7 linked regions of the Homo sapiens genome follow. The protein of the gene in region 1 purifies or fractionates together with the protein of each later gene. This does not show direct contact. Each region holds a gene or a part of one and is shown on either strand. Other genes may lie near its edges.

Region 1 (2,796 bases):
ATGGGCCCTGGGGGCTGCATCCCTGGGGTACCTGACTTTGAGGTGCCACCGGGCAGAGCCCATCACTGGTGCAGGAGCAGGGGAGGGGATCCAGGGTACCTGGGATGCTGGCAAAGATCTCACTGATCCCAATGAGCAGGTACTGAGGGATCTGCCACCAGATGGACAGTGGTGCCGCGTTGTACAGGACCTCCCCAATCTGCTGGGACACGGTCTCGTTGTGGTGGATGTAGTGTAAGCGCTCCATCTCCAGGACTCCTGGTGGAGGAGCAGAGGGGGATTATAGTCAGGCCCACCCCAGGCAGCTTAGCCCACAGAAGAGCTTGTACATGGTGGGGATGGGGTACTCATGAAGCAGCCAAAGATTGAGCAGCAGGCAAGGAAAAGAATGCTGGACTGGGGGGTGGAGGAGGGGGCCAAGATGTGACCAACTCCTCCCTTTTGGTCTTGGCTGCTAGAAGCTCCAAGCTGAGTTTTGCACTCAATAACACTAACAACTCTCATTAATGGAGAACCTGTTATGTGCTAGGCATTTACCATGCATCCTTGCTGCGGAAGAAAGTGAAATAACTAGCACTTTCAAGTGCTTAACTAGAAAGTTAAGCAACTAGCCCACAGTCACACAGCTGATAAGTAGTCAGGGCTGGATTTGAGCTCTGGTATGTCTGGTTTCAAAGCTGGCCTACTTTCCATGATATCACATGACTTCTCTACTGCAACGTCAAGTATTGCTGTAGTGTTTCTAACCTGGCTTTCAAGTTTAACTATGTTATCTCCTTCTCCTGTGTTGCTTGGGAGATAGCTGTGCTCTAGTGGAATGAACATTGGACATGGAGTTGGGGGACCTGGGTTCCCAGCCTGGCTAGCTGTGTGACCTTGGGCAAATCACTTAACCTCTCTAGACTCAGTTCCCTTACTCAAGAAGCAGGAATAACATTCCCAGGATTATTGTGAGGATAAAATAGGACAAACTGCTTTAAGGATATAGCTGGAATAAAATCTAGTTGGGTTTTCACACTTTCAACACAATACCGTTTATGGAGCTTTCATTTCTCCAGCTCATACTTGTGATCCAGGCACACTACTGAGTGCTTTACAGACTTCATCTGCTGTAATCCTCACAACACCCCCCATCAGACTGAGTTCCACAAGGGCAGAGCCCTGCTCAGGGTCCGAATGACACCTGTCCCCATTTTAAAGACATAGCTCAGAGACTCTAAGGAACTTCAGGGTCATAAAGTTACTAAGTAAAAAGGGTTCAGGTTTGTGCAACAGTGTGAAAGACTTCTTTAGCTGATCCCCCCCACTGCCCCCACCAACCCCCACTTTGTAACAAATGGCTTCAGATCCTTTTGAAATGGAAGAAGGAAGATAATTTTTTTTTAAGTCTTCATTTGCCACTAAGTGGAAAATTCATTCAACACATTTATGGAGGGCCCACGTGCATGTTCATAGCAGTGAATAAAAAAAGAAAAACTATCTCTGCCTTCAAGGAGCTGATAATTCACTGGGGGAAAATATTTGTTCCTCTCTCGGCCTGAGTTTCTTCTTCTGTCAAAATGAGGGGCAGCTGGATTAGATAGGAGGGTCTCTTTCAGCTTGCACCTCTGGGAAGCCAACACTGACGCCCACTGGGAGAGGCTGAACTTGGTCCAGGCTACCACTTCAGCATCAGCCCATGGTGGAAGCAGACTTCCCCAAGCCCAAAGTTCAGCCCCCTGCCCCACACCCCTCTGCACACCTGCCACAATGACGGAGGTAAAACCAAAGAACATCCCCAGCGCCATCTTCTGCAGAGCAGAGGGAAGCAGCTTGCACCGCAGCAGTAAAGGGTCGATCAAGCGGTCCTTCAGAGGGACCAGAATCAGCACCACCACAACATTGGCCAGGAGGAGCCAGGCTTCCGGGATCTGGGCAGGAGGAAGTCAGGAGAGGCAGGCTAGCAGAGTGCAAGGAGCCTGGCTGCAGTCAGGAGACCTGGACTCTAGACTGGCCCTGGGTGACCCTGGGGTCCAGCTCCTTTCCCTCTCTGGAGTTCATGCTCCTCAGCTGTGTAACCAGGGAGTGGGATTATGTAGAGATGGCAAATAGGTTCCTCTTGTATTCTAACTTTTATCAATTGGTAGTGGCTGATTATGGAACATTTATGGGCTCAGCATAAAAAAAGTCATGATTGACTAGTGATGTCTGCCATGGGCAAGGAAATGGACTACAATGGCAAATTTCTCATATATCTGCCAGCTCTGCAGATCATTCATTTCATGAGTCTGAAATGCCAAGGAACTGGTTTAGAAAGTTCTGGGAAAGGCAGAGATCTAGGTATCTAAGGGTCCCAGAGAAAGAGGGGACAAGGAAGAGTTGAAAAGGGACCTAAGTATGCTTGATCTGAGGGTGCAAATTAGGCAGCGAGACCTGCTTCAGAGCAGCAGCATGGGGGTGTGCAGCTGGCCTGAATTCCTTCAAGCAGTTGAGCATCTTGGCAGGATCCCTGCGCTGTGACACAAGTCCTCCCACCCTCCAGGTGCTTTTCCTGTATCCTGAGGTTGCCTTGCAGGCAGGAAAGGGGAGTGTGAAGGCAGTTTCATTTCCTCCTCTTCTCAGAGGAAGCCGCTACCTGGCTGAACTGGGTGCCGAACACATGCTTTATCTCTCACCGTGTAGCTGCTGCCCTGGGCTCTCAGGGCCACAGAGATGTTGGCCGGGTTGGCTGGGAAAATGTTTGGGATGTGGAGGTGAAGACCCTGCAGGACATAGGTGGACTGCATCTGCCAAGAGAGACAGGGGTGAGGCTGGAAC
Region 2 (3,500 bases), on another chromosome or scaffold:
AAAATTACCTAGAATTTTTAAAAAGATGAATAAAGTTATACATTGGAAGAAATGGCATTCATAATAACTCAAAATGAGTGGTTAAACGAAGTATGATTTGATAAAACTTACACTGAGAGTTTTATATTTTTTCCCTCTGCTTCCTTTTGGAATTACTCTTTTCAGCTGTGGAAATAACGCTTTTTTTTTTTTTTTTTTTTTGAGACAGGGTCTCACTCTGTCCTGAGTAGCTGGGACCACAGGCGTGTGCCACCATGTCCAGCTAATTTTTAAAAATTTATTGTAGATACGGGGTCTCCCTATGTTGCTCAGGCTGGTCTTGAACTCCTCCCGTTTAAGGATTAAGCAGTCCTCCCATTGTGGCCTCCCCAAGTGCTGGGATTACAGACACAAGCTATTGTGCCCAGCCAGAAATACTCTTTTTAAGTGTGGCTAAAGCTACGTCCATGTCATGTACCTTTCTTTGACTATAATGTTGACATAAGCTGAATGCCTTTTAGCATCGTTCATAACAATCAGTTGAAGATAAACTGTATTTGTAAACTATCTCATATGTATAATATGATTTTGAACTTGCTGTATCAAATTATGAGCAAACCTCACATTCTTAAAGTGACTTAAATTTAAGAGTTTTATTGAGGTATAAAATATATATATATATATATATATATATATATATATATATATATATATATATGATTTACTCTGAAGTCAGTGATTTTTTAGCAGATTTAAAGCTGTGCAACTATCACCATAATCCAGTTGAGAACATTTCCATCATTCTTAAAGTGACTCTTCTAACAAAGTTGCATTCCTTTGTTTCCCCTTGTTTTCTGTCAAACGTTTATGTCCTCTCCATGCCATTTCCACCCTCACCATGCACCCCCACCCACCCCACAAGTTAGTTTGTGACCTGGTGGAGGCTATAAAAGTGTCTTACCTTGTGGGTTTTTTTCTTTTCAAAAAATGTCTTTATTTTGCCAGCACCTTGATCGTATATTTTCTGGTTTTTCAGAATGTTTTTCGTTCTCTATTTCTGTGTATTCATTAGAAATACATTTTTTTTGCAATCTGAGTCAAGTTCTCAAAAATGATTTTCGCAAGTGTTCTTTCTCCCAAACTGTTTGCTCCTTGAATAGAGAACTGTCTTACTGTGTTTGTTTTGTCTTGCTCTCTATTGCCCAGGCTGGAATGCAGTGGTGTGAACACAGCTCCCTGTAGCCTTGACTTCCTGGGCTTGGGTGATCATCCTTCCTTAGCCTCCCAAAGTGCTGGGATTAAAGGCGTGAGCTACTACCCCTGGCCCTTACTCTGTTTTGATTACACTGTGACTAGACATGCATATTGTGGGCATTAAAAACTTACTTCTATGGTTATCTCACCTTTCTAATTCAGACAAAGAGTAATTTGTCCTGACGTATTCTTCCTCATCTCTTCTCTTCCCTTCTGTCCAGGTCTGTCAGGTACATATTTAATTTCTAGAGGATACAAAAATGTTCAAGATATTTAAGTGCAATTAAATTCATAACAAATCTAGATAATATAGCCCCTGGCATATAGTAGTGGTTCAAAAGTTGCTTTCACTTGAAAAACTATTTCTGATAATAAATTTATACATTACTGATTGCTCTCTGAGAATTATCAATCAGTGTCTTGTTTTTGAGACAGAATTTCACTCTTTTGCCCAGGCTGGACTGCAGCGATGTGATCACCAGGTCATTGCAGCAGCCTTGACCTCCCTGGCTCAAGAGATTCTCTCACCTCAGCTTCCTGAGTAGCTGGGACTACAGGCATGTGCCTCTGTGTCCAGCTAATTTTTGTATGTTTTATAGAGACAGAGTTTCGCCATGTTGCCTAGGCTGGTCTTGAAATCCTGAGCTCAAGCGATCCTCCTGCCTCAGACTCCCAAAGTGTTGGGATTACAGGTGTGAGCCACGGCGCCTGGCTGAGAATTATTAATGTTTTATTTTGAATTCTAGTATGTAGTTATTAACACACCAGCAATTCAGTGTAGATTTAGCTGACTTGGAATATAATTGACATTAAGACTACTGAAAAAAAGTTTCTCTTTAAAGAAAAGGCTTTAATAAATGAGAAATATAGTAATTACAAAGGTAGAAACAAAATCAAATCTTGTCTGGTAGATCCAGGTCCAGAGAGCATCGCAGACATCGATCTCGCTCCATGTCACGTGAACGCAAGAGGAGAACTCGATCCAAATCTCGGGAGAAACGCCATCGCCACAGGTCCCGCTCCAGCAGCCGTAGCCGCAGCCGTAGCCACCAGAGAAGTCGGCACAGTTCTAGAGATAGGAGCAGAGAACGATCCAAGAGGAGGTATTGATGTGTCAATCAGAGGATATGGAGCTACCTTAATGTTTTAGAGTTGTTTATGTTTACTTATGTTACTTATGTTTAGAGTTCAGATTATTGGTTTGAAACTTTTGCATCTGGTAATATGTACACATTTATGTGTGGGTGTACAACATTTTTCTGTGATTATATGGGTAGTTTTGAAAGAATATACTTATGAGCCAGAGCAAGAAATTGGAACCAATATGTGTAGAGGTTATTGCTTTTCTCTGCTTAGTGTGTCTTGGAAAAAAGTTCTTTACAGGTAAATAATTTTAAATACCAATACCCTTAGTATGGATCAGCAAATTAGGGGCTCTGAGAAGTCCTTTCATTACAAGAGTTGTTTAGCTTTGATTTATTGTTTTCTAAACTTATTTGAGCTGGGATGCTTTTTCAGAGCAGACACATTCTAGTATATTCTTGTTTTATCTGCACTATAGATATGTATTGTTACATACCTTCAGCTTGGCAAGGCAGACTAATAAGGAGGTTCCAAGACTTCCCTTGGTTTAATGAGAACATTCAAAAGGTGCAGGCATAGGGTAAGGTATGTTTGAGGACTTGAATATCTATTAAGGATAGACAAAGGATTATAATGTGGTAGAAGAGTTTAGCATTCATAGTCTGTATAGATCAAACTGTCAAAACTTCTCAGGTCACATGATGGCCCTTAAACCAGGTAATTTCTGTGTAACGTAAGCCATGTTTAAAATTGCTTTTTTCTTGACAACTATTCAGAAGTATATGTATGATAAACATTTTTTGAGTGCCTAGTACCTACTAGTCTTACATATTCTGTGGATTACTCCACATAAAATCTATAATAAAATCCACAGAAAGCTGTTAAAATCTTTCCTATTTTTTTTTGACTCAACTTTCCATTCCCTGAAATCACTCACAAGCTGAGTTTGTTAATAGGCTCTCAATATTTTATTTCTTATATTCTGGCCTTGTTTTTAGTATTTCTTAAGGTGATTTTAATAATAATTAATTGTATATGTTTTACTGTACTAGACTTAGTAAAACATAAGAAAGACGTATAACATAGTTGAACAACTTTAAGTTGCTCTAAGAAGTTTCCTATGTGAGGCTGGGTGCCATGGCTCACGCTTATAATCCCAGCACTTTGGGAGACCGAGATGGGCG
Region 3 (2,552 bases), on another chromosome or scaffold:
GAGAAAAACATGGCAGATTTTCTTCTGTTTTTCTTGGGGCAAAATCAGATTTTACTGTTTAATAGTACAAAATTTTTGCAAAATTAGCAGATAATACTCATCATTTCTAACTTCTGAAATCTTTTGTTTAGGTGAGACATGGAATCCATTAAAATTGCATTATCAGTTAAGAAATGTACGGGAACGATTAGCTAAAAACCTGGTGGAAAAGGGTGTATTGACAACAGAGAAACAGAACTTCCTACTTTTTGACATGACAACACATCCCCTCACCAATAACAACATTAAGCAGCGCCTCATCAAGAAAGTACAGGAAGCCGTTCTTGACAAATGGGTGAATGACCCTCACCGCATGGACAGGCGCTTGCTGGCCCTCATTTACCTGGCTCATGCCTCGGACGTCCTGGAGAATGCTTTTGCTCCTCTTCTGGACGAGCAGTATGATTTGGCTACCAAGAGAGTGCGGCAGCTTCTCGACTTAGACCCTGAAGTGGAATGTCTGAAGGCCAACACCAATGAGGTTCTGTGGGCGGTGGTGGCGGCGTTCACCAAGTAACTCTGCTCGGGGTGAACCATTCTCCTTTCTCTCAAGTAAACCAGTAGTTTTTCTTCTGTTGACTTCTGGTTTTCTGTAATTTGTACTTTCCCACACTATAATTGGCTTCTGTTTTACAAAATGGTGGGTGGCTTTTTCTTTTTTGTACGTGTACAGGATTCTGCTGGTACGAGAGGCCTTCCTCTTTCTGTTTTTAAAAAAAGTTTTACTGCCATATTGGCATTCCATTCCCTGTTGCCATCCTCACTGTTACCTGTTTTGGGTTTCTGGTCTACTTTGACTTTCAAAGTACCTCCAGCCTCCTCATACGCACAGCTTTTGGATGACCTCAGCTTGAGTTTCTCCATATGTGCATGTACATCTAGCATTCTGCCTACAGTTCAGACAGAAGTCACAAAAAGGCCTTCAACTCACCAAAGGTAAATATCTGTATCTATTAGGACATTTTTTACATAGACTTCAGTTGAGATGTATACTTAGCAAAATTATTTTTAAATTGAAACAGCACAGTAAATACTTAATATAAAATGTCCCTTGGATTTTGCTTCCCATGTAAATCTATTGTATTATTACACTTGTTATAATTTTAACTATAAAGGTCCAATTGTTTCACAGAGCCAGTTTGGGATGGGCTGCATTCCATTTATGCTGTATATAGTTTGAATTATATATAAATTACCCCTTCTTCTGGCCACCCCTGCTCCCATCTTAGTATTTTGCAAGATCTAATCAGTTGTACACCTGGTGCCCCTCGCTTGCTTCAATCATGGTTATTTGATGGCAAAATCGACCTCTTGTCGCTGAAGGAGAGAGAAAAGATGTGTGTCTGATTGGTCCTGGGATTTTTTGAGCTGTGCCATTTATGGTACTCTTTGCCTATGCATCCCCTTGTTAGATTTTTTTTAAATTTTATCTTACTGTTTTTATAATTTCTATTGGGAAGAGGCTTGTGACCAGTACCAATCTTGAGTTTCTTTTTCTGTCCACAAGTAAATTAATATCTGCTCTGAAATGTCATTTATCTACTCACACATTCTTGGGGAAAAAAATCAAATGTCAGTCCTAGCAGATGTTGCATGTAAATTGGTAGCAAGTAATGATTACAACCCAGAGGATTAAGAATTTTGTAACAGAAAGCTCTATGTTTTAATTTTTTATATACAATTAGGATAATTAGCATTGTCAGACTATAAACCTTTGCTTTTTAAAGTTTATTTTTACTATTTCTTTATCACTTTATTGTATCATCACCATTGGTTTCATAATGTAAATACTATATGTTGAACAAATTAAATGTCAAAATTTTTTATTACCATAGTCCATGTTAATAGTGGGGCTTTCAGGTGTTTAGAGATTTTTTTTGTTGTTGTTAACATTCATTGCAAAAGTACTAGATGGTGTATAACTCTAGAGTTGAATTTTAAGGGATTCCCTAATATGTATACTATCTTTTTATCTGAAGTAATAAATAAACAATGATCTTGAAAGTGCCTGAATCAGAGCAAGCATGTCATTTGTGTTTTTGTATTCTCATTTAGTTTTCTTTCAAATGAAATGTTACTTACTGTAGCATTGTAATATTTTAATGCAGGGCTTGGGTTTCTTAAAGGGCCAGATAGTAGATATTTTAGGCTTTGTGAGCCGCCAGCTGTGTCAGTTGCAACTACTGAACTTTACTGAATGAAAACTGTTATAGATAATACAAATAAATAGGTTAGACTGTGTTCCAATAAAACTTTATTTGCAAAAACGGGGCTGGTCAAGGCCCCAGTTTTAATGCATGGAAAAAAGACAGATTTTTCTATCCATTGGAGTAACCTTCTTTACCTTCAAAAATGATACTGCTGGTGGTAACTACATGTAGGAACTATTAAAGTGTCTTCCCATAAAGTAGATATTGGGAAACTGATACCAGTATACTGGAATTTCTTATCGAGTGAAAAGTTCCTGTTTTTCACTTGAGAAGATGTTAGAGGTGAGGTAATAGATTTCTGAG
Region 4 (3,500 bases), on another chromosome or scaffold:
ATACATTTTTACAGTTCTTATCATAATATACATTTCAATTTCTATCTCTACCATTGTTATATACTTGTCCATGTTAATACATTATCTTCATAGATACGATAATGTAATTAATTTTGTGAAAATAGCAATTTCCTCTCCAATTTTGTAGGAAAAAAATGGGATCCCTTATTTTGTTTTGATTTTTATTTATTTGATTACTAGTGGAGTTGAAGACTTTTCTATATGCTTGTTAATTATATTTCATATTTCATTAATTACATTTCATATCTTCTCATTATATTTTAGAGTTTTAATGCTTTTTCTCAGTTTCATAGGTCAGTGCAAGTATGTGGGATATAATGAATATCTTAAAGTGAGCGTTTTATATTTTCTGCAGATATTTTATGTAAACAATGGCAATCTTGGAGGTAGAAAGGAAAAAAAAGATCTGGAGGAAAATGAAAATGCTATAAATAGACTCAGCTGATTTTATAAATCTGTCAAGGGCCATCTTTGTTTATGTGGTATCATTATAAATTAAAATTAACCCACCCACATTTTTTGAAGGCTAATTTTAGAAATCCAATAATTTTGGATATATTTTGTAATTTTTAAAATATTCTCTAGGTACTATTTGAACATTATTCTAAAATAGTAGTAAACTATTGCTAAATTAGCTGATCATTACTTAAGAAATAATTCTTTTTGAGATAAGAGGCTTGCTCTGTTGCCCAGTCTGGAGTGCAGTGGCATGATCTCGGTTCACTGTAACCTCCGCCTCCCGGGTTCAAGCAATTCTCCTGCCTCAGCCTCCCGAGTAGCTGGGACTACAGGTGTGTACCACCATGCCCAGCTAATTTTTGTATTTTATTTTTATAAGAGACAGGGTTTCACTATGTTGGCCAGGCTGGTCTCGAACTCCTGACCTCAGGTGATCTGTCCACCTTGGCCTCCCAAAGGGCTGGGATTATAGGTGTGAGCCACTGCACCCGGCCTAGAAATAATTTTTAACTGCAGTATATTACCTTATCCACAGATTACCTGTCTAATTGATGTGTAATACTTGTGTGCAGAGATAACATAAAACATTTTTTGAATAGTATTTAATGTACAAACAGTATAGTAAAGATAACGGACGTATTGCTTACCATCTTACCTAGTTTTTGCTGTATTTGCATATTGGAGTAGTTTTTTATTTTAAATTGTAAAAAACAATAAAAACATTAAAATTTATCTTAGCCATTTTTCAGTTTATAATTCAGTATTGTTAAGTATATTCACATTGTTGTGCAACAGAAGAAATAAGCTTTTACGTACCTATTTATTTTATTTTTTAAAGTCCACTATGATGACGCAGGAACAAATCCAGAAAGAATATGATGCACTGGTTAAAAGCTCAGAGGAACTCCTCAGTGCATTACAGAAAAAAAAACAGCAGGAAGAGGAAGCAGAAAGGCTGAGGCGTATTCAAGAAGAAATGGAAAAGGAAAGAAAAAGACGTGAAGAAGACGAAAAACGTCGAAGAAAGGAAGAGGAGGAAAGGCGGATGTGAGGCATTTATATTATTTTGAATAAGAGACTTAAAGAAATAGTGAATTCTTGGTATTGACAGTGGTTAATGACAATTATTTGTTTTGTTTTGTTTTTGTGACAGGGTCTTGCTCTGTTGCCCAGGCTGGAGTGCAGTGGCGCGATCTTGGCTTACTGCACTCTGCCTCTCGGGTTCAATCGATTTTCCTGCCTCAGCCTCCTGAGTAGCTGGGATTACAGGTGCGCACCACCACGCCTGGCTAATTTTTGTATTTGTAGTGGAGACGGGGTTTCACTATGTTGGCCAGGCTGGTCTCAAACTCCTGACCACAGGGGATCCACCCGCCTCGGCCTCCCAAAGCGCTTGGATTACAGGCGTGAGCCACCGTGCTCGGTTGACAATTCTTAAAACTGTGTTCTTATTTTAATGAACTAATTTTGTAATAAGTTTGAAAATTGAGAGAATAAGGTCATTTTATAATAGTGATACCATAAAATAATTTTAACTATAATCTGAATTTGTTAGCCTCTTACACCTGAGGATTTTCTTCTTTTTAAAACTATGATTTGTTTATTGTTTTCTAAGCTAGATAAATGACACTTCTACTTTTCTGCAGTTTTAAAACTGATAACATTTTGAAAGATTGCCATGATAGGGTAGAGAGAACAGATGAGTTGTTGACTTGGAGAGGGACTAGAGGGAAGCACCTTTAATCAGGACCTTACAGCCAGGCTTTGTAACCACATTCATCTAGAGATGTTAAAAGTTATAGAATATAATTATATTTGTTTTATTTAAGAATTATTGTCAATAGAGTTAAATTTTATTTTATTCAAAATAAGTTGATGTATGTGGCCAGGAGGTTAATTTGCATTCCCAATCTGTTACCTTTGTTTATTATTAAATAATAGTTAAATTGCCTTCTGAAGGATTCTTTATTTTCTGTTAAATTTTTGAAGAGTTTTCTATTTTTTATTAGGAAACTTGAGATGGAAGCAAAGAGAAAACAAGAAGAAGAAGAGAGAAAGAAAAGGGAAGATGATGAAAAACGCATTCAAGTATGTACTTACTGGGTTGAATTTCTATTAAAATGGAACCTACAGGCTGGGTGTGGTGGCTCATGCCTGTAATCCCAGCTCTTTGGGAGGCCGAGGCGGGCGGATCACGAGGTCAGGAGATCAAGACCATCCTGGCTAACATGGTGAAACCCCATCTCTACTTATACGAAAACAAATTAGCCGGACATGGTGGTGGGCACCTGTAGCCCCAGCTAATTGGGAGGTTGAGGCAGGAGAATGATGTGAACCCAGGAGGCAGAGCTTGCAGTGAGCCAAGATGACACCACTGCACTCCAGCCTGGGCAACAGAGCGAGACTCCATCTCAAAAAAAATAAAAAATAAAAAATAAATAAAATAAAATGGAACCTATGAAAGAAGTGAAAATGAGATCTTGATTTGCTAGATAAGCTGTCACTAGTTTATCCTAGAGACCAAAGGCCAGTTTTTGAAGTGGTTATGGGAATGGACTTTGGAGCTAGGGAAGTGGGTTCAAATCCAAGATCAGTCACTGACAGAAATTGTGACATTGTACACATTATAGTGAGGAACTATGGGTCACAGTTGTCTCTCTGTAGAATGTGGATAAATAATAGTTGCAAGCATTTGACAGTTAATACATGTTAAAGCATTGTGAACACTGTGTAGATCAATAAATATTAATAATTGTTTTTATACCTAGGGGAAAGTCAAATGAAAATTCACTTAAAATGTTAAGTTTTAAAATATCATATAACTTTGTAGATACTGGAATTAATAAATTAGGATTAAGAGTCTCTCTCCACCCCTAGTTTTTAAAAAGTCCCATGTTGAGAATAAATTGCTCATGTATTTGAATTTCTGTTTGTCATGGCTTTCATAATATATCCTAAGCATAACCAAAACTTTAAATTCCTGACATCTGCTCTCTAGGTGTTAGTGTTAATGGGATGCC
Region 5 (4,132 bases), on another chromosome or scaffold:
GTGTGGCGGGGACTGGCCCCTTTCTCACAGCCCACTGCAGTGGGATGAGAGTCCCAAACGGATGACATAATGTCTGGAAAGCACCGAGTTTAACCAAGAGAGAAATAGGGTTATTACAAAGATGAAGGGGCTCTGAGGGAAATTCTGCAAGAGATATCATTACTTTGAAATCACTTGGAAAATAAATGAGAGGAATATCACCCTGCCCCCATACCCACTGCAGCACTGTAATTACGGGGTGAGGATAATTGAATTTTAGAAACGCCCGGGGCCCAGCTACACTCTTCAAAAGTAATATGAAGAATCTGACCCCCTCTGGCCTGGCGAAGAGCAAGCTCCTGAGTTCTTGCTACCGGCTCCAGCGACTGTCTGCTTTCCTTTTCTCCTTAGCGCCGCCATCACGGGGGTCCTCCCCGCAAGACCTGCAGAGAGTGGGATGTTGCCCCCTTCCCTGCGCAAATTTAGAGACAGCTAGTGCCGTCTGGGGACCAGTCACTGTGCTAGGATCAGCTCGAGTACTAAGCCGCGACAGTTGGGCTAGAAAGCCCTTCCTCCGAGCCCCCCAAGGCCCAGGTGGCAGCGGGTTCAGCTCATAGAGGAAATTGTCCTGATGTCCTGCAGAACAGAACAATGGGAGTGGAAAGGGTGGTTTATTTTCTCAAGAAATCGACTACATTTCCCAGGCCTGATATACATCTCAATGGGACTGTCCCACAGAGGAAGAGTCTCCTCGGAACTTCTTCACCCCCAAATTAACATTTCTCCCAACTTTGGGTTAGTAGGGTTCTTTAGGCGTCTGATCATTGTGGGAAGCGGTGCGGCATCAAGTCTGAAAAGTGAATATAATATGGTTTATTTGGAACTCGACCAGGAAATTTTGGTTCTTTTGGCTGGTGGAAATATGCAGAAGAAACACCATCTAAGGGCGCGTCCCCTTCTGAAGTACCTTTCCGAACTGGGGAGGGAAGAGAAAAGCTTTTTGGGTGAACCAGAAGTGGTAAAATCACATTCAAATAGAGTGGGTAGGACTCTCCTCCAGGGGGTGTGGGGTGGAGGCTAGGCGGTGAGAGCTTCCCGCGCCCAGGGAGCAGGTCTTCACGGGAGGTTTCCGGAGGCAGGAGGAGCCTGCGGGTCCTCGGGAGTCACGGCCGGATGAAGGATGGGAGCGGGCGCCGACCACAGCCAGGGCCGCGAGGCGCAGGAGGGCGCAGGCTGGCCAGGTCCCCAGCCTGCCGGCCCCACGTGGCAGCCCCGGGGCGAGCGGGGCGGGCCGGGGGCGGGTCCGGCCGCTGACGCGCCGGGTATATAGCCGGGCATGCGCGCGGTGCCGGGGCCCGGACGCAGTGAGGGGGGTCGGCGCGCGTGTCTACGCGGACGCACCGGCTAAGCTGCTTCTGCCGCCGCCGGCCGCCTGGGACCTTGCGGTGAGGCTGCGCGGGGCCGAGGCCGCCTCCGAGCGCCAGGTGAGGGCGGGGACGCCAAGGGCCGCGGGATGGGCAGCGGCGGAGGAGCCCCGCACCCCAGGCTGGGGCAGTGGGTGGGGGCGGGGACAGCCCTGCGCCGAGGACCGGGCGCCGCTCCCGGGCACCGGCACACGCCCGGACGGCTGGGTGGAGGCTGCACCTGGCCGTGGTGCCGCGCTGGCGAGGGGAGAGGTCAAGGCGCGGCCTGTCCGCCTGGAGGGTGCGGGATGCTAGAGCCGCAGAAGGGTGCCCAGAGCGTGGGTCGCCGCGCCGAAGGCTGAGCCAGGCTCCCGGATTCCCCGCGCGGACACGGACGCAGAACGCAGACAGTAGGTGGCCAATCCGAGGGGCGGCTCTTGGGGCGGCTCTATGGGGCTCTGGGGTCTGGACTTTGCTTTTCAGGAGCTGCGTCCCCGGGCCCCCGCCGGTCCATCTCCCCTCTGAAGGTACATGTACCCAATCTTCCGGCTGAGCGAATCTCCAACCTGGCTTGCCCACGAGGATGGCTTTCTGGCTATTTTTGGTCCTTAATGACCAAGTTAGGTGGTCGGGTTCAGGCTGCCCCCTCTTGGTGGGTGAGGGCAGTGGGACAAAGTCGCCATCCGAGCAGTTTCATCATCTGATCCTGAGGTCCAGTTGAGCCGGGAAAATTTCGTCAGCTCTGGACTAGGGGTTCACTTTTGAGGATCTGGTGCTTGCCAGGGCCTGGGTTCCAGAGACAGGCTTCTCTAAACAGTTAAAGGGCTCGGCTGTACAGGAGGACTCCGGACACAATTGGGGAGTGGCTAAGTGCTCTCTTGTGGCCCGAATGGAAGCGTGGGGTTAGGAGCAGCTTTGACCTGACCCTTCTTCCTGGAGCAAGCCTGGTTTGGGTTTACGTCTTTAGTGGCTCTCCCCTAGGAGCCCCAGGCCATTGGGACGGCTGTGCTCCTGCTGAGGAGTGGCCTGGGAGTTAGCCCTGGCCTCTGTCCCTGCTCTGCTCTTAACTGGCCCTGTGACCTTGGGAGGGTCAGGTCAGTACCACGGTCAGACTAGATCTCCTTAACCACAGCATATACAATTCCGTAATCCTTCCCTCTTTTATTTTATTTTATTTTATTTTATTTTATTTTATTTTATTTTATTTTATTGTATTTTATTTTATTTGAGACGGAGTCTCACTCTGTTGCCCACGCAAGAGTGCAGTGGCGCGATCTCGGCTCACTGCAACCTCCGCCTCCCGGGTTCAAGCGACTCTCCTGCCTCAGCCTCCCGAGTAGCTGGGACTACAGGCGCGTGCCACCATGCCCGGCTAATTTTTTGTATTTTTAGTAGAGACGGGGTTTCACCGTGTTAGCCAGGATGGTCTCGATCTCCTGACCTCGTGATCCGCCCACCTCAGCCTTCCAGAGTGCTGGGATTACAGGCGTGAGCCACCCTGCCCGGCCTATCCTTACCTCTTAAAACCTAAGTCCTAAATATGGACAAGAACTTGTCCATATACATCCTTGGATGCATATCCCCCGGGACGCAGCTCCTGAAAAGCGAAGTCCAGACCCCAGAGCCCCATGGAGCCACCCCAAGGATATACATCCTTGGTAAAGCAAGAGAAGGGATGTCCAGAATCATAACTTAGCAGCTGGAATTAAAAGCCACATGTTCCTTTTCCTGGTGGAGGCTCAGAGAGGTGAGTTTTCCATTACCTGTGTGGTAGCCAGGAGATAGGCTAGTGGTCCTCTTGCTGGGGTTGGTTTGCAGGTAAGACTAGAGGGCACCAGACAGTGGAAGGGGGTCCTCTGGATACTGTCTCTTCCCAAAGGGCCAGGCCAAAAGCAGGTTCTTGCTTAATTTATCATATTTTACTCATCTGGCCTCTGGGGCCTTGAGGGAGGGCAGTGCTGAGCGGGAGATTCGATCCAGGTGTTGACTGACAGCTGGCCAGCCAGTGCAGAGGCTAGAGGAACTCACTGACCTGAGGACTTGGGGGCTGGAGCAGCTGCATCATTGGCCTTGTATTTTAGGCCAGAGTAAGAATTTTGGGCTCTGGGACTCTTAGCCTGTGGATGTACATTGCCTGGTCTGTGCTGGGCTCTGCAGTGGCCACCATGGCGGGTGCACGCAGAAGGCCTGGCCCCCACCCTTCCAGTGCAAACTCTTGGGGAGAAACAGCATCCACGGGTGAAGAACAAGATAGCAACACAAGAGAAGCCTCCATACTGTGCACAGTTCAGTTCAGAGAGCGGGCATCCTTGAAAGACGGGAATAATTCTGGCCTTTTGAGATAGGTGGGTCTCTGTTCAATTCCTGGCCCCGTCACTCTCCAGCAGTGAGAAATTTCTTAACTTCTGTTCTCACCAGCTTGCAGGATGTCGTGATTTTGCCTGGAACATAGTAGAGGGCTGCTTGTCATCATTCTCATCGTCATAATTTTTGTGGGGTGGAGTGGGTTATTTAGGGGTCCCAGAGGCTGATAGTTGGGTTGGGTTGTAGGAATGGTGTGAGCCCAGGCGTAGGGTTGATTCATCTCTTCCTTGGCAACATGGATGCAATTTCCCTGCCCTTCTGGGAAGGCCGCTTTTCTGTGGCCTGCCAGGGATTGTCCCACAGATCAATTGGGCAATTTTAGGGAAAACAAACTTTTTTCTACCTTTGGTTCTGGGAGCTGCTCTGATTTCTTCAGAGAAGAAATG
Region 6 (3,500 bases), on another chromosome or scaffold:
CTTCACCTTAGCCTCCCAAGTAGCTGGGCCTACAGCCATGCACCACCATCCCCTGCTAATTTTTGTATTTTTTGTAGAGTCAGGATTTTGCCATGTTGCCCAGGCTGGTCTGGAACTCTTGCACTCAAGTGATCGTCCTGCTTCAGGAGGATCCATCACACTTGGCCCTGGGAATACTTTGATTATATTTATGCCAGTAAAGCTACATAACTTATAGGCCTCATGTGAAGAGTTGCCAAGGGAATGGGAAAACAGGCTCACATTAGAAGGTAGATTCGAAACTTTTGGATCTAGGATGTTAAACAGTTTGAAGTGTTGGGTTTTTTTCATAATCTTAGTGGGTGATTAAAAAATTCTCTATTACTGTATTTCAATTTTAGAGCATCAATAAATGTTAGCTAGAAATGAAGGCCAGGCTGGGCGTGGTGGCTCACACCTGTAATCCCAGCTCTTTGGGAGGCGAAGGCGAATGGATCATGAGATCAGGAGTTTGAGACCAGCCTGGCAAACATGGTGAAACCCCATCTTACTAAAAATACAAAAATTAGCCGGGCGTGGTGGCACATGCCTGTAATCCCAGCTACTCAGTTGGCTGAGGCAGGAGAATCACTTGAACCCAGGAGGTGGAGGTTGCAGTGAGCCAAGATCGCGCCACTGCACTCCAGCCTGGGTGACAGGGCGAGACTCCATCTCAAAAAAACAAAAGAAAAAGAAATGAAGGATAATGCCTGTAATTGTTAAGTGCTAAAGTCTGTTTGTTTTAAACAAACTGCTTTGTTTTTGTTTTTTTCCAGATTGCCTGCTTCCTTTCCATCTTCTTCCTAAGTATCTGTGTTTATTCTACTGTGTTCAGGATTCGTGTATTTAACTATTATTATTTGGCCTCACATCACCAGACTGATGCTTATAGCCTTCTTTTCAGTGGCATGTAAGTAGGATTATGTTTAGAAACAAGAGAAATGTCATCATTGAGTGTATTCTTATGGATCTTTTATTTTTTGTTGTTTACAGGTGTTCCACTAACATCTATATTTCTATCAGCTAATTGATTAGTTTCAAATATTAAATTGATGTTTGTTGATTGCCAGCTACTTCCTGCTTGAGGTTTAAGGTTAAAATAGGTGTGCTAGGTTAGGCTAGAAGGCAGAAGAAGCATACTTAGTGAGCCCGGATTTACCAACCAGAGATTAGCAAGCAGTAGAAACAATGGACAGTTTAGAGACTAAGTCAGACCTAGATGGTGTTCTAAGATTCAGCGGTCTCTCACTGAGTTGAGGAGGACTGAGAAAACCAACAAGAACAATTTTTCCTGAGGAATTCAGAGAGGATTTAGAGAGATGTCTTCAAGTTGGGCAAGATTGTACAATCTATTACCTGTTCTTATTGTTAAATGAGTCCTATTAGGTATTTATAAAGGATGAACTTAGATAATTTTATAGAGGAGTTGACATCCAAAGTATTTTTAAGCATCTTTTTTGTTGTTTTCCAAATAATTATGGACTCATGGGAAGTTGCAAATGTAGCACAAAAAGTCCTATGTAACCTTCACGCTACCCCCAGTGATATCAAAACCAGGAAATGAGAGTAAAACATTACTATTAACTACAAACTACAGACTTTATTTAGTTCTCACCATTTTTTATCCTTCATTCGTGTGTGTGTGTGTGTGTGTAGATTCCTGTAGCCACCAACACAATCAGGATTCAGAACAGTTCTATCACCACAAAAGAATTATCTCATATTATTTTTTTTTAATTCATACCCACACTTTATTCTCCCCAGCCCCAATTATCCAAGTGTGTGGGTTTGTAAGGCATTCTTTTTATTTGGACAGAATTGAACAACTTTATATCTGTGCTTGTCAGAATGACATATGTTGATACAACTTCAGTTCTTTTATGTACTGAATACAATTCACCTTGAGGATGTTACTGTCCTTGTCATGCTGTGAGATGGATTTTACGGATGGCTTAGTTGTAGGAGATGATACAAAGGCACTCCACAACTTGTGGGGATAAAGCAATGGCAGAAACCATAAAAGCAAGGAGCTTGAGGCTGTAGTCACGTAGGCATTGATGTGGCAATTTTCAGAATATCTCCCAAGTAAGTGAGGGCAGGTCACATTAAGAATTCAATATATATATAAAGCAAATAGATGAAAATTTTAGCTATAATTATCTGAAATGTTTTTAATACATCTCAGTATACTATAAAATGTATTTTGCTGCTTTACTTTTTATATACATATTTTTAAATGTTTGTTGCAGGCTATTTTGCCGTTTGACACCTCCTTTATGTCTTAATTTCTTGGGTTTGACCCATATGGATTCATCTATCTCTCACAAGAATACTCAACCAACTGCTTATACATCTGTAAGTACGGTCAGAAAATAGAATTCCTTAGGTTCACTATCTATATGAGGTGCTGTTATTGTGAAATTTCTTTTAATGCCAGCAGAAAAGTTCTATAGTGTTATTGGTAAAATTTTCTCTTAAAGATTGTATACGTATTACTATTGACTAGATAAAAGTGATTTTCCTTCTTTTATGATAAAAATGTTTTTTTTGGTTCATATATGTTGTCTAGCTGACCAGTATCAAAAGAACTGACCTATACTAATATTAACTTTATATTTGTAGTCAATGTATGTGATAATTTTGAGTAATAATTATATTAATTTTCTTTAAGAGAAAACCTCAATAAAAAGCAGATTTTAAAAAATAAGTCCATTTACTGCTTTTTTTCTACTTTTTAAAAAGTTCAAATGGATTGATATAACTGGTTATAGGCAAATTTTCTAATGATGGAAAGGAATGGAAATTATAGAGCTATTCCAATTTAACTTACTTTTTTCTTGCTCTTCAGATTATGGGTTCCATGAAAGTTTTATCCTTTATTGCAGATGGATTCTATATATATTATCCTATGTTGGTGGTAATTCTCTGCATTGCTACTTATTTTAGGTAAGAAACTTAACATTGTTTTTTCTTTTGCTCTTAAATCTGGATATCCTTTCTCTTTAAAGCTCTTTTAAATATTTACTGATTGAGTTTCAGTTTGTTTCATTGTAGCTTTGGAGAAGCTGGGGATAGTTTGAAGGGACTACTTGAGTGATCAGGTGCGAGTCTCCCTCTAAAAAATTTAAAGAAAAAAGAGGTAGAGTTATTATTCTATTATAATAAATAATACTATTTTAACATTATTCTATTTAGGCTAAAAAATGATAGGATTAATTACAGAATGTTAACTCTAAGTCCTGGCCTTTGACACTGACAGCTATCGTAGCCTGCAAAACACCCTTATGTCCAGCTTTTTTCTAATGACATAAATTAGCCTTAGAGCTTTCCAATAATTATTGCTGGGTGTCTAAATGCTTCAGACCATGGCCAGCACAAAGGGTCAGGTGAGGACCGATTGTAATCAAGCTGTACATTAAGATTAGAGGAGAAATTTTCTCCTGTGTCATAAAGTACATGGCATGCTGTTTTCATGGAATTAG
Region 7 (3,500 bases), on another chromosome or scaffold:
TGACCAGCAAGCAGAAGGAGATGCTGCAGGCCCAGCTAGACAGGGAGGCGCAGGTCCGGAGGCGGCTGCAGGAGGTGAGTGGCCACCTCCGCCACATGCTCAAGCCGGAAGAGTGCTGGGCAGCTTGGTCCTGCTGCTTGCTGTCACAAGCAGGGCCCTGCTGACCTGCCTTCTGGACAACTCTGCTTGCAGCTGGATGGGGAGCTGGAGGCGGCGCTTGGACTGCTGGACATCATCCTGGCCAAGAACCCGTCCGGCCTGACCCAGTACATCCCTGTTTTGGTCGACTCTTTTCTGCCCTTGCTGAAGTCTCCCCTGGCTGCTCCCAGGATCAAGAACCCCTTCTTGTCCTTGGCTGCCTGTGTCATGCCCTCTAGGCTCAAGGCTTTGGGTTAGTCCTTGTTTGCTGGCTGCAGGGATGGCCCAGGGGTGCCCCTGAGTGCTTGGACAGGGTGTGCCCCTGAGTGCTTGTGGGGAGGTGGGTGGTGACCTCAGCTGCTGAGTTTTGTTTTCTTGTGGAAGCAGCCTTGGAGACTCAAGCTGGATATGCTTAGGAGAGACGTAGTGCCTCCTCTTCTCTCCCACTTCACATCTGTGCCCTCCCTCTGAGGAGTAGGTTTTAGATGCTAGTCAGTGTTCGATCTTTGTATACCAGTTTTAAAACTAAGAAGTCAGAAGTTCAGTGGCAGTGAGGATGGTTTGGTGGCTCAGCCCAGCCCAGATCTCCTGAACAGCCACATGACAGCAGTGAGCAGAGGCCCTTGAGACCTTTAGCTTCCTCTTAGCTCTGGAGAAACAAACACCAGGTAGGGTGGCTGGCAGTTCTGGTGGCCTTGCTTCTGTGGGTTGTTTAGTGGCCTTCAGCAGACTTCTATCCTGGCCTAACGGTGATGTTCCCACGGGTGAGGCTAGAATCTGGGAACTGTTCTGAGTGGAAAAGTCAGCTGGTGCATATGAAACCTGCCAGAAGTGTCACCTGGCTGTCTGGGCTTGTTGCGTAGAGGTGGAGATGCTGCACAGATAGAGCTGTACTCTTGGCTGAATGACTCTTTGGTGGCCCTTGTCTCCTGTCAGCGTACTCATTTCTTAAATGTCCAAAGGGCAACTCTCTGCCTACCTGCCCTCTGAGGCTGTCACAAAGATCAAGTGAGAAATTAGGCTGGGGACATTTTGGCGAAGCAGAAAGATTTTTTTTTTTTTTTTTGAGACGGAGTCTTACTCTGTCACCCAGGCTGGAGTGCAGTGGCGCCATCTTGGCTCACTGCCAGCTCCGCTTCCCGGGTTCATGCCATTCTCCTTCTTGAGCCTCCTGAGTAGCTGGGACTACAGGCGCCCGTCACCACGCCCAGCTAATTTTTTGTATTTTTAGTAGAGATGGGGTTTCACCGTGTTAGCCAGGATGGTCTCAATCTCCTGACCTCATGATCCGCCCGCCTCGGCCTCCCAAAGTGCTGGGATTACAGGCATCAGCCACCGCGCCCAGCCGCAGAAATATTTTTTTAAGTCAGAAGGATGAGGCACTGGGTCCCCTGTTTTAGCCTGGGCTGGATTCCACATCTCTGTGTGTCATCTCCTGCTGGGTCTCTCCTCTTCAACACAGGCACTTTGGTGAGCCACGTGACCCTGCGCCTGCTGAAGCCAGAGTGTGTCCTGGATAAGTCCTGGTGCCAGGAAGAGCTGTCGGTGGCTGTGAAGAGGGCGGTGATGCTGCTGCACACCCACACCATCACCAGCAGGGTGGGCAAGGGGGAGCCAGGTAAGGGCTGGGACGGGATCAGGGGCACCAGGCGGTGTGAGCTGGTGCCAGGAATGCTGCTCAAGGCACAGCGTCACCCAGGGCCTCCTGAGCCTGGGGGATTGGACCATATGGAGGATTTCTGAATTGAACCTTCGTAGTCTGTGAATTGCAGTGAGCCCAGTTGAGGGTTTACTTTTTGTCACTGGTGTCCCCATCTCTGTTTTAACTCTCACATCCTGGAACTGGGCAGTGTTTGGCAGTAGAAGCAGAATTGGTTTTAGAACTGGACTACCAGCTGCTGTCTCTGTCCTCGTGCCATGTGCTTCCAGGTGTCAGAACGGGCCTCTGGTCCATCCGTTCCCTACTTTCCCTGAGGATAGAAATAGGCAGCAGTGGCCCGGGTCCCTGCCCTGCCTGCAGAATCTTATCTGCTTCTCGCTCTCACAGGTGCTGCGCCCTTGTCCGCGCCAGCCTTCTCCTTAGTCTTCCCGTTTCTGAAGATGGTGCTGACGGAGATGCCCCACCACAGTGAGGAGGAGGAGGAGTGGATGGCCCAGATTCTTCAGATCCTCACTGTCCAAGCCCAGCTGAGGGCCTCCCCCAACACCCCACCCGGGCGGGTGGACGAGGTTGGCAGGGAAGCTCTGCTCTCCTCTTGGTTTAAAGGGGATCAGGGAGGCAGGGCCTGTGGACACGTTTTGTCTCATGAACAGTTCCTGGTGGGGAAATAGAGAGTGTATGTTTATACCAACAGCAGCCTCACACAGTGTTGTGGGTTTTTTAAGGCAAAAACGGGTCAGACTGCTTCTTTCATGTGATTGTAGACTCTGGCTCTCCTGCCATGCCAGTACATGTCAGTTCACCTGATTGACTTTGTTGGCTGCATGAGATTCTGTGCTATGGATGTACCATGTTTTACTTAACTCTTTACCTGTTGATGAGTTCTTAAGGTTGTTTCTAACTTTTTCCTGTTTTGAACAGCACTGTGATGTGCCCTCTTGTATGTATATGCCCCTTACTTAACCAGTGTGAGCATTTCTTTAGGACAGGTTCATTGGACATGGAATTACTAGATTATATGGCATATTCTGAGCTATACTCTCACCAAGAGTTTTCTTTTCTCAAAGCCTTAATGCAACCTCAGATAGTATTAATATCGTCAGTGATGAGTGAAAGAATGATAATCTCATTTTATTTTGCATTTCATTTAAAGTTGAGTGTCTCTTCATATATTTACGGTCTTTCTGGATTTCATAGTGTGAATTTCAAGCAAGTTTCAGAATTTAGTTTTTAGTTCCTGAGGATCATGGTTGACTGGGGTTAGCACCTGTGGACCTAGTTGTAAACTTAATGAGGTTTCTGTGGTGGGGCCGGTTGTATGATCCAGAATGTTCCCCCGTGGGTGAGAGGATGCCCTGCCGTTGGCCGCCTGGGTTACAGACCTCCCCACAGCCTCATCTCGACTTACCTGCCGTTCTCTCCTAGAATGGCCCGGAGTTGCTGCCTCGCGTGGCCATGCTGCGTCTTCTGACTTGGGTGATCGGGACGGGCTCGCCTCGCTTACAGGTGATGTGGTTTTCAGTTGGCTGTTGCTGTGACTCAGTTCGTGACCCAGACCTCAAGTCCCAGTGTAAAGGGTGGAGTCCTAGTTTCCTTTCAGCCCTTACTTTTGGACTTTGGTAGAAAGACTGCTTTAGAGAGCCAGCCTGACTGTTGTTAGCTAGTGAGGGGTTTTGCTTGGGTCCTGCCACTGGAGCTGGGG

What was found.
Region 2: the proteins of SLC15A3 (region 1) and LUC7L2 purify together in Homo sapiens (affinity purification with mass spectrometry; 2 studies listed by BioGRID and IntAct, with this or other methods). This does not show direct contact.
Region 3: the proteins of SLC15A3 (region 1) and GOLPH3 purify together in Homo sapiens (affinity purification with mass spectrometry; 2 studies listed by BioGRID and IntAct, with this or other methods). This does not show direct contact.
Region 4: the proteins of SLC15A3 (region 1) and MYO6 purify together in Homo sapiens (affinity purification with mass spectrometry; one large-scale study listed by BioGRID and IntAct). This does not show direct contact.
Region 5: the proteins of SLC15A3 (region 1) and SLC39A14 purify together in Homo sapiens (affinity purification with mass spectrometry; 2 studies listed by BioGRID and IntAct, with this or other methods). This does not show direct contact.
Region 6: the proteins of SLC15A3 (region 1) and LMBRD2 purify together in Homo sapiens (affinity purification with mass spectrometry; 2 studies listed by BioGRID and IntAct, with this or other methods). This does not show direct contact.
Region 7: the proteins of SLC15A3 (region 1) and GCN1 purify together in Homo sapiens (affinity purification with mass spectrometry, with the first as the bait; one large-scale study listed by BioGRID). This does not show direct contact.

What each region holds. Positions count from the first base shown.
Region 1 is NC_000011.10:60,939,381-60,942,176, forward strand, and holds part of SLC15A3 (solute carrier family 15 member 3), read right to left. Parts: intron 2,766-2,796; coding exon 2,655-2,765; intron 1,911-2,654; coding exon 1,742-1,910; intron 259-1,741; coding exon 100-258; intron 1-99. UniProt on the Homo sapiens protein: Proton-coupled amino-acid transporter that transports free histidine and certain di- and tripeptides, and is involved in innate immune response. Also able to transport carnosine.
Region 2 is NC_000007.14:139,415,394-139,418,893, forward strand, and holds part of LUC7L2 (putative RNA-binding protein Luc7-like 2), read left to right. Parts: intron 1-2,068; exon of another isoform or gene 2,069-2,144; coding exon 2,145-2,336; intron 2,337-3,500. Other genes in the region: FMC1-LUC7L2 readthrough protein, read left to right, coding at 2,145-2,336. UniProt on the Homo sapiens protein: May bind to RNA via its Arg/Ser-rich domain.
Region 3 is NC_000005.10:32,124,216-32,126,767, reverse strand, and holds the end of GOLPH3 (Golgi phosphoprotein 3), read left to right. Parts: intron 1-131; coding exon 132-556; 3' UTR 557-2,052; downstream 2,053-2,552. UniProt on the Homo sapiens protein: Phosphatidylinositol-4-phosphate-binding protein that links Golgi membranes to the cytoskeleton and may participate in the tensile force required for vesicle budding from the Golgi.
Region 4 is NC_000006.12:75,888,739-75,892,238, forward strand, and holds part of MYO6 (unconventional myosin-VI), read left to right. Parts: intron 1-1,318; coding exon 1,319-1,527; intron 1,528-2,489; coding exon 2,490-2,568; intron 2,569-3,500. UniProt on the Homo sapiens protein: Myosins are actin-based motor molecules with ATPase activity. Unconventional myosins serve in intracellular movements. Myosin 6 is a reverse-direction motor protein that moves towards the minus-end of actin filaments.
Region 5 is NC_000008.11:22,365,946-22,370,077, forward strand, and holds the start of SLC39A14 (metal cation symporter ZIP14 isoform a precursor), read left to right. Parts: upstream 1-1,332; 5' UTR 1,333-1,463; intron 1,464-1,592; exon of another isoform or gene 1,593-1,792; intron 1,793-4,132. UniProt on the Homo sapiens protein: Electroneutral transporter of the plasma membrane mediating the cellular uptake of the divalent metal cations zinc, manganese and iron that are important for tissue homeostasis, metabolism, development and immunity.
Region 6 is NC_000005.10:36,113,888-36,117,387, reverse strand, and holds part of LMBRD2 (G-protein coupled receptor-associated protein LMBRD2), read left to right. Parts: intron 1-794; coding exon 795-928; intron 929-2,267; coding exon 2,268-2,373; intron 2,374-2,866; coding exon 2,867-2,964; intron 2,965-3,500. UniProt on the Homo sapiens protein: Recruited to ligand-activated beta-2 adrenergic receptor/ADRB2, it negatively regulates the adrenergic receptor signaling pathway. May also regulate other G-protein coupled receptors including type-1 angiotensin II receptor/AGTR1.
Region 7 is NC_000012.12:120,156,716-120,160,215, reverse strand, and holds part of GCN1 (stalled ribosome sensor GCN1), read left to right. Parts: coding exon 1-74; intron 75-192; coding exon 193-391; intron 392-1,600; coding exon 1,601-1,756; intron 1,757-2,185; coding exon 2,186-2,367; intron 2,368-3,223; coding exon 3,224-3,304; intron 3,305-3,500. UniProt on the Homo sapiens protein: Ribosome collision sensor that plays a key role in the RNF14-RNF25 translation quality control pathway, a pathway that takes place when a ribosome has stalled during translation, and which promotes ubiquitination and degradation of translation factors on stalled ribosomes.